Linked DNA regions of Homo sapiens. The protein of the gene in region 3 interacts with the protein of the main gene of each other region in a pairwise test. Each region holds a gene or a part of one and is shown on either strand. Other genes may lie near its edges. The genes, in order: INPP5K, TMEM143 and SFT2D2.

Region 1 (3,746 bases), on a different chromosome or scaffold from region 3:
TCCTGAACTCCTGATCTCTCAGGTGATCCGCCCGCCTCAGCCTCCCAAAGTGCTGGGATTACAGGCCTGAGCCACCGCGCCCGGCCAAGGAGTTTTTAAGTAACAGGTTTCTCGACATCTCTCTTAAGAGTCTATGCTCTATGTCTGCGTAGTATTCCGTGAAAAATAAAGAGTACTCTCTGGGGAAAAGTCATCAGTTGGATATTTTCCACCTCAGCTTACAAGTCTTAGGGAAGCAAGAAAACTAGATAAGGGGCCTCAATGACACTGGATCCAGTCAGAGGCTCAGGAAAGAGAGACCTACAGATGTCTTTAGTGGAACAGTCAGTCACAGCAGCTCTTCAAGAAGCCTCAGACTGTGCGGAGCACAGAGCGGGCAGGAGCTACAGACCCTGCAGAGACCAGGAACAGCCTAGCATGAGTCCTAGGCACACGATGAGGAGTACCTGCAGCAGCTGGAGATCTGGAATGGCAGAGGGTACAGGGGGATGGGAGAAAAGGGCAGTTAATGCCAAAACATCTCTCCTCCAACAGACCCCGTCCTTAGAGGTCGACGTTCTCAAAAGCACTTCAAGAAATTCTTGGCCAGTTTAAAGCAACTTCCTGTCCCTCCCTGTTAGCATAAACAACACTATACAGAAACCACCTTCCCAGGCACTCGGCCTGAGATTTTGAGCTTCATTTGTTTACGATCTCCCCCTGCTGTCCGACAGAGGCTTAAGGAACAAAGACCTTTTACTCAGAGACTTCTTTTCCCAGACTCACTCTAAGAGGATGGAGAGCAAAAGTCCGGATTTCTTGTTCCCACTCTCAAATCCGACGATTAGCAGCAAATCCAAGCATCGTGACTTAGACTAAGTGGGCGATTAGCGTTGTTCCCCGTGAAAGAGCAGGCAAGAGACCAGGCTAAGTCACTTCCCTAAAGGATCTTATCTCAATCTGATTTCGGATTCCCGGGGTTCACCATGGGATCAGGCAGACCTCCTGATGTATGTGCTGATGAAAAGTAGGAAAAAGATTTCTAACCGAGAGCCGAAGGGTGACGGCCTCGTTATGTCTTTAACCTCAAACAACCCCACACGGCTGTCCTCTCCAGAAAGCAACCGGGACACCTGCTGCGCCCCAGTGGGAACGAGCTTGGCGGCCTCGGCTTAGAGGGGGCGCGAGGCTCGGGCCCAACACAGCCCACCTGACACAGGCGTGGGAGAAGGCGAGAGCGCCTCTGAACCAAAGGCAGTCATGGAGGTCTGGTGCCTTGTCCACCCCCAGCCCGCAGCCCAAGGGGCGCCGATCCCCCCGAGCAGGCCTGCCTCTGCCGCCAGGGTGCCCTCACCTGAGCCTCCTGCCTTTCGGCCCGCTCAGCTTCCGCGAGCTCATGGCCGCCGTCGTCCCCGCGCGGTGGTCCGGCAGGTTCGCGTCTCCCGGCCAGCGGGTCCCGGCCAGAGCAGCCCTGCGGGCGGCCGGTCTCACGCGCCTAGCTGTCGCGGACTGTTTTTCTTCCGGACTCCGACCGTCCGCCCCGGCTTCCGTCAGAGACGCGCCCTCCGCGCACCCCGGGATCTGGGTGGTGCGGTTCGCAGAAGGAGGCGGGACTCTCCCACGAGCGCAAAGCTGCGAGAGGCTGAGCGAAGACGGGTTCGCGGACGTAAGAGGGGCGTGTCGGGCCTGTCATCAGCGCACGCGCAACACTGCCCCAGACGACGCGAGGTGTGCGGCCGCCACTAGACCCGGCCCAGCCCGCGCCCGCCGTCCGCAGCTCCCAGCGTGCCCCGCGCCAGGGGCCGTCTTCCGGCGGAAGTTGTCTCTTCGCCGCCGCCGCAGCCTCTGCCCCACTCGTGAGGGATCCGAGGGCTCCGTCCTTGTGCTGTCTTCGCCCCGGCTCCCAGGGGTCAAACGAGGGTCGGGGGTGGGGACACGCAGCCTAGCCACTGTCCTGCCTGGGATCCGGTCTCCCCCGCCCCCCGGCTGCAGGTAATCTCCCCATTCCTGCTACTGCGGGAGCGCCTCCGTTCTCCACGCCCACTTTCAGGCTTCTACTCCAAACTTATTGGATTACCTATTGCATATGGGACGTTTGGGGATTCCTGGACTCCTACAGAATTAGCCGTCAATAAATGAAACGTAGGCCGGGGCGCGGTGGCTCAATGCCTGTAATCCCAGCACTTTGGGAGGCCGAGGCGGGCGGCTCACTTGAGGTCAGGAGTTTAAGACCAGCCTGGCCTTAACATGGTGAAACCCCGTCTCTGCTAAAAACACAAAAGCTAGCTGGGCTTGATAGCGCGCGCCTGTTAATCCCAGCTACTCGGGAGGCTGAGGCAGGAGAATCGCCTGAACCCGGGAGGTGGAGGTTGCAGTGAGCCGAGATTGCGCCACTGCACCCCAGCCTGCGCGACAGAGCGAGACTTCGTTTCAAAAAAAAAAAATAATAATAATAATTAGCCGAGATGGGGTTTCGCCATGTTGGTCAGGCTGGTCTCGAACTCCTGACCTCAGCTGATCCACCCGCCTCGGCCTCCCAGAGTGCTGCGATTTCAGGTGTGAGCCACCGCGCCCGGCCTAAAACTACTTTAAATAAATGTTTTGCTTGTTTGGTAGGGTGGATAAAGAGGAAGATGTGAAGAGGAGGCAGACAAAAGCAAAAGGACATCCTGTCAGTAGGAAACGGCCGAATTACAATTCAGATGTGCAATGTTTGCATAAGTAAACTGACACGGGACTATTATATGCAGAAATCCACGTGCAAAAATTTTCAGACACACCTTTGTACCTCTTCCTAATCCTGCCCTGGTAAAATGGCGGTTATCAGTGCAAGTTTGAGGATACATACAGCTGGAAAATGGACATCACCAAACTGGACTCCAGAAAGTTCTGTCTAGGATTTTATTAGACTGCTTTTTTTCTCAATATACCTGTATTGGAAGATTGAGACAAAAAGGCACAAACTCACATTAAATAAACAAGGTAATCTAATCAATTCTACAAAGTGTAGTTTGTAAAACAAGTAGCACTAGGAACCAACCAAAGTAAGTCAGGGAGTCCCAGCAGGGACTGTAAAAGAACTTGGGAAGCTATACACATGCCCACGATACTGACCCTGTCCCGGACCTCTCTGCATGAGAAGGCCAGAGCCCAGCACCCCTCCTACAGAGGCACTGCTGCTTCTGTTGGGGCTGTGACCCTGGAATTCTGATGGAAGCAGCTGGTCTGAAGGGGCATGGCACACACTCAGGTACTACCCCTGGAGCTGAACCTTTATCATAAGTCCCTCTGAGTGCTAGTCAGTTTGGAGGTGGGTGAGGAGGAAAGGGGGTACTTAAAAGAAGCCAACACTGTTGCCCAGCAGCAACACCATCCGTGGGGATGGAACAGACCAGGGACATCCTCCTTTATGTTTATGTGGGCTGCAATTCCAGATCCAGGCTGACCTCAGCTCATAATGGATGCTTTTCAACTGGGGCAACAGGTGGAGGTGGGAGGAGCCCTTGTTAGGGCTAAAGTGATATGTGTGGGTCTCAAGAGCCAAAGGAAGGAGACTAACAGCTGCTGACCCTCAGACCACATAGACAACTGTCTGCCTAGAATGTCAGTTTGTTTCTTTCAAGATAACCCGCATCTGGACTTCCCCTAGTTGATGAATGAAGGAACATCTTTAAGCACAAATATAATGAATAGCTAACACAGAGCTTATAGGAAAACACTGACATTTTTCTCCAGTAGGAATGCCTCTTCTCCAACTTTCCAAGTCA
Region 2 (3,746 bases), on a different chromosome or scaffold from region 3:
TTGTTTCAAAGAAAAAAAATTTACTTAACTTTTCTAAGCCCTAGTTTTGTTATCTCAGAGATGGGACTTGCAGCACCTACTGTGAGGGCTGTTCCTTACTATGAGAGTCCATCAGTGCCTCAATAGCATAGGGCCTATAGTGGGGTGCTCAGGAAAAGGTGGTGTCAGCATTTGCTCCGTTGTCTTGTTTCCCCGTCTGACCCCTTCCTTGTCCTCCCATCTCCCGCACTGTGTCTGGGAGTTGAGAGCTCCTGGCTCCTGTCACCCAGGGGCACAGTCGGGCCATGGGAGGGCCTCACCCCTTCGAAGACCCGCGTGATGGTCTTGGGCCTTCTCAGAAACTGCACGGCTTCGCTGTTGGCCAGCTCCTGGAGGCTTTTGGGGATGTGCATGGCAGCTGTTTTCCTTTGGGGCCACTGGGAGGTGGGAGCCAGGGTGCTGGGCGCTGCCTGCTGGGCACTGCCGTCCGGGGGCTTCAGGCCAGCCCTGGGCTTGGCTGCTGTGGGATGACACAGATGGGGGATGCCAGTCAGGGGCACGGGGTGGAAGGGCTGTTGGGGGCCCCAGGATTGGGGGACATGGGGTGGGGATGGGGGGGGTCCCCGGAATGGAGTTGTGTGGGGTGAGGGGACTGCTGAGCCTCTTAGGAGTCAGGGTGTGGGGTGAATGGGCTGTCAGGGGCCCCAGAAGTCGGGGACGTAGGATGGGGGTGCAGGTGGGTCCCAGGGAATGAGGTTGTGTGTGCTGAGGGGGCTTCTGTGGGCCCCAGGAGTGGGGGGCATAGGATGGGGGTGCTGGGGGTCCCAGGAATGGGGTTGTGTGGTGAGGGGGCTACTAGGGGTCCCAGAAGTGGGAGGCATAGGATGGGGGTTCTGGGGGGTCCCAGGAAAGGTGTTGTGTGGAGAGGGCTGCTAGGGGTCCCTGAAGTGGGGGACATAGGATGCGGGTGCTGGGGGTTCCCAGGAATGGGGTTGTGTGTGGTGAGGGAGCTTTCTGGGGGTCCCAGGAGAGGGGGGCATAGGATGGGGATACTAGGGGTCCCAGGCAAGGTGTCGTGTGGGGAGGGCTGCCAGGGGTCACAGAGGTGGAGGTGCAGGATGAGAGAGTCGCTAAGGGTCCCCTGGGTTGAGGTGTGGGTTAAGGGGGTCTATGGAGGATTCCAGAGAGGTGAGGGCCTGGGGTGAGGGTGATTCTGGGGGTCCCAGGAGTGGGGGACATAAGTGAAGGGGCTGCTTCAGGTTCCAGAAGTCAGGAATGTGGGCTGAGGGGGTTGTTGGGCGAGAGGGCTGTCAGGGATCCCAGAGGTGGAGTGCAGGGGAGGGCTGGGATATTTGGGGACCACGTCTTGTGACCCAGGAGCTGAAGGGCCTGCAGAGGGACTGGGTCCTTCTGTGAGAGGACACAGGTGGGACTTTCTGGGGACTAGGGGGTGCGGCCATTGAGATCAGAGCCCCTGGGAGGTCTGAAACCGAATAATCCCTTTCAGGTTTGGGGGTGACAGCACCCTTCGTGGAGAACCCAGGTATCTCAGGGCATATTTCAGGCTGTCCTTGTCACTTGGGGCCATTTCCCAGAATAAGGGCCTCCCTTTCGAATTCAGCTCCATTTTCACGGAAGTGCACCTCCTCAAGCTGGGAGTCGGGACCTCGGATTTGTGGGGAACCTCAGAATGAGGCCACGCCCCGGCACTGGGCTACCTTCTTAGAATCGCGGTCTCCCCTTTAAGGACCTGGAATGGCAGTGCTGAGGTTTGGGGGTGACGGCACCTGAGAAGGGGCCGCCCCTTCTCTGGAGGGCCAATCTGCGTCACCTGAGGGCCCGCCCTTCCTTTCGCCACCCCCACCCCTCCTGGTCCCTAGCGCCACCTCAGCCTTCTTTTGGTTCCGCTTTTTCCCGCCTTTTCGCTCCTCCACAGCTGATTGGCTGCGCCCAAGTCCCGCCCCCTCCCTCTTTCCGCCTACTCAGGAGCTGACACGAGCCGGGGCGTGGCCTCGGCGAACGTTGGACTGCGCGCCGTTGGCGGACTGCGCGCGGGAGCCCTACCCCGCCCCATCCCTCTAGGGAGTCTCGCGTCCACACCGCCCCTTCCCTTTGTAGCAAGCTGACAAGGAGACACTCCTGCGGCGCATGCGTCGCGCCCAAACGAGGCCGGCGGTGGAGAAAGGCAGGCAACGCATGCGTAGTTGATGTAGGGAGTCGGCGGTGAGAAATGGACAGCCCGCATTGACCGAAGCTTTGCGCATGCGTTTTACTGCTGGGTGAAGCCGAACCTCGGGAGCCCAGGACGCCCTCCTGCACATGCGCAGGAGGCTCAATGACAGTCGAGCTTTGGCTAAGGTGAGGGAGAAATCGGGGGATTGCATGGCCAGGGAGGGCGGCCCTGCACCCCCTAGGTAACCTTTACGAGCATTTCCTGCTCTCCTAAGATCTACCTCGCTGTCTAGACCCCAAAGAAACGTTGTACCACTACAGGGTCTCTGGGCCTGAAAAACGCCCCAGAACCTAAGACCTCTGACCCCTGTCTGGGACCCAGGCCAACTGAGCAGTGTGGGAAGGGGACAGGCAACAGGGGCTTTGAGGCGAGCGGATGGGCTCTGCGCCCTGCCTGGGGTAGAGACGGCTTCTGGAGGGTGGGACGTGGAGGTGGAGAGGGCGCTTTTCCTCTAGATGGCCTTTGACCCCTGCCCATTTTCCTCTGTTTAGGCTCCGGGGAAAGGGTCTAGCCATGCTGCATGTGACCCGGGGGGTCTGGGGGTCCAGGGTCCGAGTATGGCCACTGTTGCCCGCGCTCCTCGGGCCCCCCCGGGCCCTCTCATCGCTGGCAGCCAAAATGGGGGAGTATCGCAAGATGTGGAACCCCAGGGAGCCCCGCGACTGGGCCCAGCAGTACCGCGAGCGCTTCATTCCCTTCTCCAAGGAGCAGCTGCTCCGCCTCCTAATACAGGTACCGCCTGTCCCAGGCCCAAGAGCCTGGGGACTACGGCTCCCAGCAGGCTTCGCGGCGGCAGGGCCCTAGTTGCTGCAGAGAGCTGCCCTGGCGCCTCCTGGGAGTTGTAGTTCCCGGGTCCCTTCGTGTTTCCCTAGTGGGCGGGAGATGAGCTGGAATGCAGGAGCCAGGTCTCCGAGATGCAGACGCAGCATCCATTCCCAACTCTGGCTTGTTCTGAGGGCTTGAACAGGCACTCTCTGGGGCATGGTTTTTCCCTCTTTAAGATGGGTATAGTAATCATCCTCATCATTACTATTTCTACTACCTGATAATAATTGTACCTATAAAGTCACAACGCTGTAATCATAATTATTATCACACAATTTGAGCTCTGACTCCATGGCACTGTGCCAGACATTTTTCATGTATTGTTGAATCATCAGTAAGAGAGATACCACCATCATCCCCATTTTACAGATGAGATAATGGAAGCATAGGGAAGGAAAGTGACTTACCCAAGGCCACAACATAGTGGCTTAGATTTGAACCAAAGTGGTCTGACTCCAGAGCTGGCCCAGGACTAGGGTTAGGCAAGTAGGGCACTCGCTTGACCCTAAGAGTGAGTGCCCCGTTAAATTTTGCACCCTTGGGTGCCATATTCACCTCATCCTAGTCTTGGTCTCACTCTAGAACCTGAGGTCTTATTGCCACCATCATCATCATTGTCATTATTGAGGATTTTGAGGATTATTATTCATTTATTTTTCTTTATTTATTTTTGTGAGACAGGGTCTCACTCTGTTGCCCAGACTGGAGT
Region 3 (3,664 bases):
CTCGTCTCTACTAAAAATACAAAAATTAGCTGGGTGTGGTGCGCTACTGTAATCCCAGCTACTTCGGAGGCTGAGGCACAAGAATCACTTGAACCTGGGAGGCCGAGGTTGCAGTGAGCCAAGAACACACCACTGCATTCCAGCCTGGGCAGCAGAGTGAGACTCCATCTCAAAAATATATATATTTATTTGTTTGTATGTATGTATGTATGTATGTATGTGTGTGTGTATTTTTTTTCCAAAATAAACACTTAAGGAAATGTCTTACTTTTTAAAAACCTTCCAAACTGTCCCTAGACCCATGTGAAACCCTAAGTCATTTAAAAGAGAGGACTACATGTCAGGTTAGGTCCCCCAAAACATCTTTAAGTGCCTATAATGTGTGCTACACACTGAGAATTCAAATTAAAGATACGGTTTTTTCTTACAGTTCTACAGTCTTCCTTTGGCTTAAAGACTCCTGGAAATACAGACATGAGTAAGAGACAACACTAGATTTATTAAAGATCATAATGCTATCATTTATTGAAGAAAGAAAGCAAAAAAAACTAACAATTGTGATGGGGGAGGAGAGACAGCTTGGCAACATTCCTTTTAAAGTTAAGTTAGCATAAAGAAAACAATATTTAGTAAATGAAATAGATTTTCAAGGTAGGAAAAGTAGTACTCAAGAATGTATTTTTGGATACAAAAATTCAGTTACACAATCAGTAGCATTCAAAATTAGTTATGAGTATTTATACAATTACAAAAATGGATTCATGTTTTAACAACGTATTTTAAAAGCTCAAACATTTTAAAACAGGCACAATATTCTAAAGGCATATGCATTCACCATGGGCTTTTGAATGTCCTCACTCCCAACTTCACAATCAAAATCTACAGAAGCGGCAAAAGATCAGAGTTCAGAGGGCTATTTTTTTTTTCCCTTTCCTTACTTAAGGTTGCAAACACATTGACAGAGGCAAAATAAACACGTTTCATAGCAGAAAGACCAAAAAATTGAATGTAAACCATAGCTCTCCCTTGGGAGATTACACAAATACAAGGTTCATCTGTACTTAGAACAAGGCTCATAACTTCTTGTAGCATGGACATTCAACAGGCACAGAGCAACAACATTCACCCAAATACCAGCTGCAATTTGTCCTTTAAGGATGCCTCACAAGGATATTATGTCCAGGTAGCTAGTCCATTTATATCGGGGACCAGTTGTCCTTTTGTTGTTTGTGGCTGTTTATTAAATGTAGTGGCACAACTTTGTTGTGAATATGTACCATCATTTGCTACAATCTAGACAGATCATCCTGTCTACAAAAAATCATTTTCTACATTTCTAAGACCATTATCAGTTTATCTGCTCCTGCTAGAAAAGGACATACTTTTTGTCAATTTACATTAACAAAGGCTCTGCTACTCCCCATTTACTCGCTGCAATGAAAACTGGTAAGCCAAGGGTAAAGCTTAAGTATCAGGGACTATGAATTTAGGGTAGAAGTGAAAATAACCAAAGTGGAACTAAATCCCCTATTCTTGAGTGCAACTGAGATCAAGTAAACTTCGCTGGACTTTCTTCTTAACTATAAAACTATTAACCAGAAGGTAAAGTCACACAATTTTACCTCCCAACAAACTTTTAAAATAAAAATTTCCAAAAAATTTAGATGTCTAGGTTTTGTTATATCTTACCAAGAGTTACACAGACATAAATTTGTATTTAACTTCAGTTAAACATCTATTCACTTTTTAAAAATGCTGTCTGCAAATAAACTACTGGACATCTTAAGCTTACTAAAAAAAACTTAAGATTTTTAAATTAAAAAAAAAAAACTAGGACAAAAATCTAGCAAATGGTTTCACGTACCTTTAAACACTGATTCTTAAAAATTTATATGCTGAAAATGAGGTTTGAGAATACGTATTTTAAACCATTTATAATCCTACCGTCGACTCTAGTCAGAAGTTATCTGAGCAAAGAGAAAATAAAGCCTGGCGTAGACAGTCCCATAGAAAATAGAATCCATAGCCACTGGGCTGCCCTTCAATTTCCCAATTCATTCCACTAAGTCTCATGATGCAAATCTGTCACTTTCATAGAGCTATCAAAAACAGAAGCCAAGCCAGATCCTCCACACTTTAAGATATGGTTCCTTATTATCTATTTTAACAGAAGTATCAAAAAGTGATTTTTTTTTTTATTTATTTTTGAGACAGAGTCTCACTCTGTTGCTCAGGCTGGAGTGCAGGGGTGCGATCTCGGCTCACTGAACTTCCACCTCCTGGGTTCAAGCAATTCTTGTGCCTCAGCCTCCCTCCCAAGTAGCTGGGATTATAGGCGCACACCAGCTAGCCTGGCTGATTTTTTTGCTGTTGTATTTTTTGTAGAGATGGGGTTTTGCCATGTTGGCCAGGCTGGTCTTGAACTCCTGACCTCAAGCGATCCACCCACCTCAGCCTCCCAAAGTGCTCAGATTACAGGTGTGAGCCACTGCACCCAGCCAAAAGGTAATTTTATTTGGAATGCATTTCATGATTTTATTTCTTGCTCCCTGAGCCTGCAGTGATTAGGGTGGAAGGGAAGTGGCACTCAGGCAGATAATTCACAAAGTCACCACACAAGGGTGATAGATGATCCACCACTGAGATAATCAACCCAGTGAAAATGCTACACTGGGGACCATGTTTTGCCCTTCCCAGACAAGACATCTTGAGCTAGGATCTGAGCTACGGCTATGCAGAGGAGCAGAACTGAAGGCTCCGTTTGAGCCCTTTCTGCAAAAGGGGATGCATTTCAGATAATGAGACAAGAGACGGGAGTGAGTTAGTACACAGCACGCCCAATACCCAACAAGCAGCCTCAGAGAGACTGGGAGAAGGGGGAGAGGGGACTGGAAGCCATCTCTTCTGTTCTGAAGGGCAGTGCTCCTCCCAAGACAGCACTCAGAGAGCCAACAGCCCAGGGCAGATCACGCCAGGACAGTGCTTCCATATGGCTGGCTGAGCACCATATTCCAATCTGCAAAAGAGTCACCTTATTGGTTCCCTTAACTTCCAAAATGCAGCAAGCCCTCCTTCACCCAGCAGTGAACGGAAGGGAAGGGAATGCAGGGCAGCAGGGAGACAGAGACCATCATTAACTACAGGTCTGAAACCCTAATTCTTTACTCACTCATCAGGTTGCTTTTAATCACTGCTGTTGCTTGGTAACAGGTTTCAGCAGATTTGAAATGGATTTCTTCCTCCCACAGTCTAACAAAAACAAGTAGGGAAACAACCAAAGAATAAGGCAACTTAAGGAAAAACGCAGGAAGACCCTGGGAGGCAGGGTCATGCAAAAGCTGCCAATGGTGTCCTGATGGGAGCTGTCTGAGCAAACTGGCCACAGGCCGTGAGTGAAAGCAAAGCAGAAGCCTTTCTACAAGACCCATCTCCTGCCAAGAACCCCTCCCTGACGCCTCCACTCGTGGGGTCTGGGATAGGCTCTTTACCTTCTCAGAGGATGGAGGCAATACCATTCACTGGGCAGTCACTGTGAATATTGAATGAGATAAAACATGGCAGTGTCTACAGCGCCGGGCACATAGTACTAGATAAGTATTTGTTAAATAAATTAATGATCGGAGACATTCACTCTCATCTTCCAAAGTTGTCAGTTATTTCTGGG

The links.
Region 1: the proteins of SFT2D2 (region 3) and INPP5K interact in binary tests that used the Homo sapiens proteins (3 or more experiments, as listed by UniProt).
Region 2: the proteins of SFT2D2 (region 3) and TMEM143 interact in binary tests that used the Homo sapiens proteins (3 or more experiments, as listed by UniProt).

Annotation. Positions count from the first base shown.
Region 1 is NC_000017.11:1,515,123-1,518,868, forward strand, and holds the start of INPP5K (inositol polyphosphate 5-phosphatase K), read right to left. Parts: upstream 1,491-3,746; 5' UTR 1,378-1,490; coding exon 1,334-1,377; intron 997-1,333; exon of another isoform or gene 766-996; intron 464-765; exon of another isoform or gene 305-463; intron 1-304. UniProt on the Homo sapiens protein: Inositol 5-phosphatase which acts on inositol 1,4,5-trisphosphate, inositol 1,3,4,5-tetrakisphosphate, phosphatidylinositol 4,5-bisphosphate and phosphatidylinositol 3,4,5-trisphosphate.
Region 2 is NC_000019.10:48,362,489-48,366,234, reverse strand, and holds the start of TMEM143 (transmembrane protein 143), read left to right. Parts: upstream 1-2,294; 5' UTR 2,295-2,314; coding exon 2,315-2,337; intron 2,338-2,703; coding exon 2,704-2,944; intron 2,945-3,746. Other genes in the region: SYNGR4 (synaptogyrin-4), read right to left, coding at 300-392.
Region 3 is NC_000001.11:168,249,858-168,253,521, reverse strand, and holds the end of SFT2D2 (vesicle transport protein SFT2B), read right to left. Parts: 3' UTR 501-3,664; downstream 1-500. UniProt on the Homo sapiens protein: May be involved in fusion of retrograde transport vesicles derived from an endocytic compartment with the Golgi complex.